Linked DNA regions of Homo sapiens: regions 1 and 2 are each linked to region 3. The links come from fine-mapping of genetic effects on gene expression. A gene starts in region 3. Each other region holds a variant in brackets. All regions are shown on one strand. Distances are between the middles of the regions. Region 1 has its middle 5.4 kb from the start of AP1M2. Region 2 has its middle 12 kb from the start of AP1M2. Region 3 holds the start of SLC44A2 (solute carrier family 44 member 2 (CTL2 blood group)).

Region 1 (2,757 bases), 33 kb before region 3:
CCAACATGGCGAAACCCTGTCTCCACTAAAAATACAAAAATTAGCCGGGCGTGGTGACGCATGCCTGTAATTCCAGCTACTTGGGAGGCTGAGGCAGAAGAATCACTTGAACTGGGGAGGCGGAGGTTATAGTGAGCCGAGATGGCACCACTGCACTCCAGCCTGGGTGACAGAGTGAGACTCCGTCTCAAGAAAATAAATAAATAGAATGAAAAATAAAAAGTTATCATCTGGCACAAGTCTCCTTCGTGCCATCTTATAAAGGTAGAAGCAGGGACACAGAGAAGTGAAGGCACCTGCCCAAGCCCACGGCCCCAGAGCCAGGAGGCAGTTGACCCAGAATTCGAATCTGAGTCCCGGGATTTAAGAATCTGGTCCCAGCCTGCTTCCGCCTGCTTTGCTATATTGCTGGATGCAAATATTACTATTAGTAACACTAACTCTGGCTTAAATGGTGCTCACCATAAGTGAGGGTGGCCCTAAATGTCGCCCATGCAGGAATCCTCAAGACAGCCCCTTGAATTACAGAAGCCTATTTTTTTTTTTTATTTATTTGAGACAAGGACTTGCTTTGTCGCCCAGGCTGCGGTGCAGTGGTGCAAACACGGCTCACTGCAGCCTCAACCTTCTGAACTCAAGAGATCCTCTCACCTAGGCCTCTCCAGTAGCTGGGACTACAGGTGAGCAACACCACTCCCAGCTAATTTTTAAATTTTTTTTTTTTTTTTTTTTGAGACAGAGTCTTGCTCTGTCGCCCAGGCTGGAGTGCAGTGGCGCAATCTCGGCTCACTGCAACTTCCGCCTCACAGGTTCACACCCTTCTCCTGCCTCAGCCTCCGGAGTAGCTGGGACTACAGGCATCCGCCATCAAGCCCGGCTAATTTTTTTGTATTTTTAGTAGAGACGGGGTTTCACCGTGTTAGCCAAGATGGTCTCGATCTCCTGACCTCGTGATCCGCACACCTCAGCCTCTCAAAGTGCTGGGATTACAGGCGTGAGCCACCGTGCCTGCCCAATTTTTAAATTTTTTGTAGAGATGGGGTCTCGCTACGTTGCTCAAGCTGGTCTTGAGCTTCTGGCCTCAAGCTGTCCTCCCACCTCAGCCTTCCAAAACACTGAGATTACAGACACGAGTCACCTCCCCCAACTCTATTATCTTCATTTGACAGATAGGGAAACTGAGGCCTTGAGAGAGTAAGTGATTTGTACAATGTCATCCAGTCAGAAGAAGCAGAGCTGGGATTTGAGCTCTGGAAAGCACAAGGTTTTTTTGTTTTGTTTTGTTTTTTGTTTTGAGACAGAGTCTCGCTCTGTC[G/A]CCCAGGCTGGAGTGGAGTGGTGTGATCTTGACTCACTGCAACCTCCGCCTCACGGGTTCGAGTGATTCTTCTGTCTCAGCTTCCCAAGTAGCTGGGACCACAGGTTTGTGCCACTATGCCTGGCTAATTTTTGTATTTTTAGTAGAGATGGGGGTTCGCCATTTTGGCCAGGACGGTCTCAAACTCCTGACCTTGTGATCCGCCCGCATTGCACGTTGGCCTCCCAAAGTGCTGGGATTACAGGTTTGAGCCACTGCACCCGGACTTTTTTGTTTTTTGAGATGGAATTTCACTCTTGTTGCCCAGGCTGGAGGGCAATGGTGCAACCTTGGCTCACCATACCCTCCGCCTCCCAGGTTCAAGTGATTCTCCTGCCTCAGCCTCCCAAGTAGCTGGGATTACAGGCATGCACCACCATGCCTGGCTAATTTTGTATTTTTAGTACAGACAAGGTTTCTCCATGTTGGTCAGGCTGGTCTCAAACTCCCGACCTCAGGTGATCCACCCACCTCAGCCTCCCAAAGTGCTGGGATTACAGGGGTGAGCCATCGCACCTGGCCCTGATTATTATTATTATTATTATTATTATTTTTGAGGCAGGGTCTCTGTCACCCAGGCTGGAGTGCAGTGGTGTGATCTCAGCTCACTGCAACCTCCACCTCCCCAGGTTCAAGCAATCAAGCAATTCTCCCACCCCAGCCTCCTGCACAGCTGGGACCACAGGTGCGTGACCACCACATCCAGCTAATTTTTATACTTTTTGGTACAGACAGGTTTCACAATGTCGCCCAGGCTGGTCTCCAACTTGTGGACTTAAGTGGTCCACCCGCCTCGGCCTCCCACAGTGCTGGGATTATAGGCGTGAGCCATCTCGCCCAGCCTAAAGCCCAAGACTTTATGTTGCTTCTGCCCAAAGGAGGGGGGTGGTCCTTCATGCTCCCAGCAACTGCCTGCTGAGAAGGTCACCTAGGGGGATGCAGTCACTGCTAGGCCCTCACCCCAGCCTAGACATTGCTGAACCTCAAAATAACTCGTCTCCTGGCAGCCGGGCGTGGTGGCTCACGCCTGTAATCCTAGCACTTCGGGAGGCTGAGGTGGGTGGATCACCTGAGGTCAGGAGTTTGAGACCAGCCTGGCCAAAATGGTGAAACCCTGTCTGGACTAAAAATACAGAATTAGCCGGGGGTGGTAGCACATGCCTGTAATCCCACCTACTCAGGAGACTGAGGCAGGAGAATCACTTGAAACTGGGAGGCAGAGGTTGCAGTGAGCCAAGATTGCGCCATTGCACTCCAGCCTGGGGCAATAGAGTGAGACTCTGTCTCAAAAACAACAACAACAACAAAATGAAGAACTCATCTCCTGGGGCCCTGAGATGTTTTCAGGCAGTAAGCAGAACCCGAAAGCCTGGGCCCAGTGCCCTGGAATCTGAAACTCCAGG
Region 2 (2,757 bases), 26 kb before region 3:
GCTAATCTTGAACTCCTGTCCTCAAGTGACCCTCCTGCCTCCCAGAGTGCTGGGATCACAGATGTGAGCCACCACTCCTGGCTGTAAACAGTCACTCTTATTATAATCTGCAGGACCACCACCTTTTTTCTTAAACTATTTTAAAAATTCTCATTTTGAAATGTAACTTTTTTATTTATTATGTATACAAACACACATATATATTTGCATCATAAATGTTATTCCCAATATGGGACAGATTCCTTTCAACCCCCAGGTGAATCACATGGTACCCTGGAAAGACCTAGGAAGCCCTCCCTCCCACCATCTCCAGGGAGGTAGTGAGAACGGCAGGTGCTGGGGACTGGGAAGGCTTTGGAGTTTCCCAGCCTACCTCTTCTCCCTTTCTCAACAAAGGATACCTGTTCCCTATTATTCCCCTTATCCACTCTTCCCTTTTTTAAAAAAAACCCACAAAACCATCATTAGTAAAAAAACAAACAAAACCCCTTCAAGTATTGGGAGTTAGGGGTCCTGGGCTGGGACTTGGAGTTACAGGTCACCAAGGAAGAGGGAAGGGAAGAGAAGGAGGGGCTGTCACTTACTACTGCTGGCTTTCTTCCTTGCTGCATGCTATGGCAACTGTGTGTCGACCTCCTTTGCTGGCAACTGCACGTATGGGACCACTGAGCCCGGAATGAAACAGTCCTTTTTAAAAAACTTTTTTTGAGACAGAGTCTCGCTCTGTCACCCAGGCTGGAGTGCAGTGGCATGATTTCAGCTCACTGCAGCCTCCACCTCCCGGGTTCCAGCAACTCTCCTGCCTCAGCTTCCCGAGTAGCTGTGAATACAGGCGCCCGCCACCACATCCGGCTAAGTTTTGTATTTTAGTAGAGATGGGGTTTTGCCATGTTGGCCAGGCTGGTCTCAAACTCCTGACCTCAGGTGATCCACCTGCCTTGGCCTCCCAAAGTGCTGGGGTTACAGGTGTGAGCCACTGCACCCAGCCTAGAAGTTCTTCACTGATAAAATGTGAGGATATTTCTCAAGGTGTGTGATACTGATGTCAGCTCATTTGATGTTGAGATACTGATCCACCGAATGGAGGGTGCCACAGATGTTCAGGTCTTTCTTGAGTTCCA[T/C]GACCACATTCATGCCCACAAGGGACTTGAAAAAAGGAATAGAAGAGCATGATGCTGGCGACCTGACCAGGAAGAGCAACACATATTTTATTTTATTTATTTATTTATTTGAGATGCTGTCTCACTCTTTCACCCAGGCCGGAGTGCAGTGGTGCAATCTTGGCTCACTGCGACCTCTGCCTCCCGGGGTCAAGCAATTCTCTGCCTCAGCCTCCTGAGGAGCTGGGATTACAGGCGCCCGCCGCCACGCCCGTCTAATTTTTTTTTTTTTTTGTATTTTTAGTAGGGACCAGGTTTCACCAAGTTAGTCAAGCTGGTCTTGAACTCCTGACCTTGTGATCCACTCAACTCAGCTTCCCAAAGTGCTGGGATTACAGGCGTGAGCCACCGTGCCGGGCCAGCAACACATATTTTAAAAGGGCAGAAGTCGGTTGGGCACAGCGGCTTACACCTGTAATCCCTGCACTTTGGGAGGCTGAGGTTGGTGGATCACCTGAGATCAGGAGTTCGAGACCAGCCTGGGCAACATGGCGAAACCCCGTCTCTACTAAAATACAAAAATTGCCACTGTACTCCAGCTTGGGCAACAGAGCAAGATTCTGTCTCAGAAAAAAAAGGCAGGCAGAGTACGGGGGAGAAGGTCAAGTATTCACAAACTAAACTAAGCTATGTAACTACAATTCTGTTTCCAGTGCCCAGAAGCTGCTCCTATCATCCCAGTAGTTATTACTACCCCAAAAGTCAACCACTGATATATGTTCTGTTACTATAGGTTGATTAGCTATGCCTGTTCTTGAACTTCAGAAAAAAGTGTGTGGTTTCTTTCACACAACATTATGCTTTTTGGGGAGAGATTCATCCATATTTTTGCCTGTATCAATAGTTTATTCCTGGACCAGGCGCTGTGGCTCACACCTGTAATCTCAGCACTCTAGGAGGCTGAGGCAGAAGGATCACTTGAGACCAGCCTGGGCACCCATAGGGAGACCCTCATCTCCACAAAAATTTAAAAAATTAGCCGAGTATGTCCAGGTGCGGTGGCTCATGCCTATAATCCCAGCACTTTTGGAGGCTGAGGGGGGCGGATCACCTGAGGTCGGGAGTTCCAGACCAGCCCGACCAACATAGAGAAACCCCGTCTCTACTAAAAATACAAAATTAGCCAGGCGTGGTGGTGCATGCCTGTAATCCCGGCTACTCAGAGACTAAGGCAGGAGAATCACTTGAACTTGGGAGACGGAGGTTGCGGTGAGCTGAGATCACACCATTGCACCATTGCACTCCAGCCTGAGCAACAAGAGTGAAACTTTGTCAAAAAAAGAAAGAAAGAAAGAAATTAGCCAGGCATGATAGTGTGTGCCTGTAGTCCCAGCAACGGGAGGCTGAGGCAGGAGGATCACTTGAGCTGAGGAGGTCAGGGCTTCAGTCAGCTATGACTGCACCATCGCAATCCAGCCTGGGCAATACAGCAAGATCCTGTCCCTAAAAAAAGAAAGAAGAAAACATTCATTCCTCATCACTAAGGAGAATCCCATGGTATGGGTGAAACCCACCATGGTTTGCTTCACCAATGATCTGTTAATGGGCATTTGGGCTGCTCCTAGTTTTTTTGCCCACTACGAATAAGGATACTATA
Region 3 (2,757 bases):
GCATGAACCACCACACCCGGCTAATTTTTGATTTATTGATTGATTGATTTTTTGAGACACTCGCTCTGTCACCCAGGCTGGAGTGCAGTGGCACGATCTCGGCTCATTGCAACCTCCGCCTCTCGGGTTGAAGTGATTCTCCTGCCTCAGCCTCCCAAGTAGCTGGGACTACAGGTGCACACCACAACATCCAGCTAATTTTTGTATTTTTAGTACAGACGGGGTTTCACCAAGTTGGCCAGGATGGTCTCGATCTCTTGACCTCATGATCCGCCCACCTCGGCCTCCCAAAGTGCTGGGATTATAGGTGTTAGCCACCACACCCAGCCTATTTTCTTTTTTCTTTTTCTTTTTGGAGACAGAGTCTCACTCTGTCCCCCAGGTTGGAGTGCAGTGAGGCAATCTTGGCTCACTGCAACCTCCACCTCCTGGGTTTAAGCGATTCTCCTGCCTCAGCTTCCCAAGTAGCTGGGATTACAGGCATGTGCCACCACACTGGCTAATGTTTGTATTTTTAGTAGAGAAGGGGTTTCACCATGTTGGCCAGGCTGGCTTAGAAATCCTGATCGACCTGCCTCAGCCTCCCAGAGTGCTGGGATTACAGGCATGAGCCACTGCACCTGGCCTATGCCTGCTCTTTGAGGTCAGTTTTGGTTTCATACTTTAGCCTCATTTTGCAGTTGAGGAAACTGAGGCTTAAGGAAGATAAGCCCTTTGTTAAGTATCCTCTAGTTCAGAGGGTGCAGAAGGAGCATTTGAATTCAGGGCGACCCAGGAGGATGTGGGCTCCACAAGGGTGGAGATTGGGTCTCTCTGGTTCCTCACTGTATGCGGTGCCCCGCCCAAGGCCTGCACCCACTAAGGGCTGAATAAATACTTGTTCTAAGACCAGGCCCAGTAGTGCACGCAGGTAATCCCAGCACTTTGGGGGGCCACGGTGGGAGGAGCCCACGAGTCCAGGAGTTAAAGATGAGCCTGGGCAACATAGCAACATCCCATCTCTACAAAAAAAATTAAAAATTAGCCGAGTGCAGTAGAGCACCTGTAGTCCCAGCTACTCAGGAGGCTTAGTCAGGAGGATGGCTTGAGGCAGGGAGGTCGAGACTGCGATGAGCTGTGATTGCACCACTGCACTCCAGCCTGGGCAACAGAGGGAGATCCTGTCTCAAAAAAAAAAAGCAGCAGACAGAAAGAAAACTAATTTCCTGCACAGCTTGGAGAAGTTTTCAGCACCAACATTCCACAGTTGGTTGTCTGGGTTTGGGCAGTAGGCCGTTTTCCCTCCCAGTGCCTCAGTTTCCACACCTGCAAAACGAAGCCACGGAAACGCCCTTTCAGGGTGGCCAGGGGTTCTAGGCGGCATCGCCCGGTGGCAGGGTGTTCCCAGGGTGAAGCCGCAGGGTTCCCGGGTGGGGGCGGGGAAGGCTAAATGCGGCCGGCCGGTGAGTGGCGGGAGCAGCTGCAGCCCCGCCCGCGCCCTCCCGGGTCCCTTAGTCTGGGCAGCTGCCCAGCTCGGGCCGGTCTGACCGGTTTGGGCCGCCCCGCCTGGCGCTGTGCTGGGAGGAGCCGCCGCCAGTCGCGCGGTCAGTGCCTCCCTCCAGACTCGGGAGGGTCGAGGGGGCGCGGGAGAGAGCGCGGGCGGCCGCCGGGGCTGGTCGCCTGCAGGGATGGGGGACGAGCGGCCCCACTACTACGGGAAACACGGTAGGCAGCGACCCCCGCCCGTAGCCCCGGGCCGACCCCTCGGTCCCTCGGAGGGGGCCTTGAGAGAACATGGGGCGCAGGGAAGGGGGCTGGAGGGGGAGCGCAATTGCAAATCTGCGCCTGGAGCCTCCCCACCATCAGCCAGGCCCCTTCACCCCACTTATCCCCCGCAGCCTCGCAGACGACCCTCCTTACTCTCCCCTACCCGAAGGACCTGCCCCTGTACCCCTCTGCCTGGCACTGCTGCCGGCGCCTCCTTCCCCCTATCCCACCTCAGATCTTCCCCATCTCCACCTGGTTCCGTGGTGGTCACCATTTCAGCCCTCTTCCCAGTGGGTGGCCGCCAGTTAATAAGTTTGTTCACAGTTAGTGATCCCTCCTTCCTCCCCTGTCCTGGCCTGCCAGAACTGGGGGCTTGGGTGTGGTCACCTGGAGGTGGGTGAGGCAGAAAATTCCACAGGTCTCTGAATTTTATTCTTGCCAAGGCAAAGACACCCCTAGGGGCTTTTGGGAGGGGGCTCTCCCAGCCCTGTCTTGGTTCAGGTCTCCAATCCCATCCATCTTAATCTTCTTGACTTTCAGGAACGCCACAGAAGTATGATCCCACTTTCAAAGGACCCATTTACAATAGGTAAGAGCTCTGGGTTTTGGGGGGTTCTCCCCGCTAATACTACCCCAATCCCTGTCTCTTCACACCCCCTCCCATCTGTTCTCCAACAAACTGGTGACAAATATTTGAAACTTTTTTTTTTTTTTGAGATGGAGTCTTGCTCTGTCACCAGGCTGGAGTGCCGTGGCGCGATCTCAATCTCGGCTCACTGCAACCTTCGCCTCCCGGGTTCGAGCAATTCTCCCACCTCAGTCTCCCAAGTAGCTGGGATTACAGGCTTGCACCACCACACCTGGCTAATTTTTTTTTTTTTTTGTACTTTTAGCAGAGATGTTTCGCTGTGTTGCCCATGCTGGTCTCGACCTCGTGAGCTCAAAGCGATCCACCTGCCTTGGCCTCCCAAAGTGCTGGGATTACAGGTGTGAGTTACCACACCTGGCCTG

Evidence for each region. PIP is the estimated chance that this variant, and not a neighbour inherited with it, causes the effect.
Region 1: its variant is fine-mapped to the expression of SLC44A2 in whole blood (INTERVAL, PIP 0.97).
Region 2: its variant is fine-mapped to the expression of SLC44A2 in whole blood (INTERVAL, PIP above 0.99).

The regions. Positions count from the first base shown.
Region 1 is chr19:10,591,289-10,594,045 of GRCh38, forward strand. No RefSeq gene overlaps it. Among named protein-coding and RNA genes, the nearest start is that of AP1M2, 5.4 kb to the left of the region's middle. RefSeq lists enhancers at 1,305-1,829, 2,356-2,757. The variant G/A (reference allele first, on the strand shown) is at 1,316.
Region 2 is chr19:10,597,797-10,600,553 of GRCh38, forward strand. It overlaps the pseudogene LSM2P1. Among named protein-coding and RNA genes, the nearest start is that of AP1M2, 12 kb to the left of the region's middle. The variant T/C (reference allele first, on the strand shown) is at 1,122.
Region 3 is chr19:10,623,967-10,626,723 of GRCh38, forward strand. SLC44A2 (solute carrier family 44 member 2 (CTL2 blood group)) reads left to right here and starts at 1,587. Exons shown (of 22, transcript NM_020428.4): 1 at 1,587-1,704; 2 at 2,287-2,335. The coding sequence starts at 1,668. RefSeq lists an enhancer at 45-626.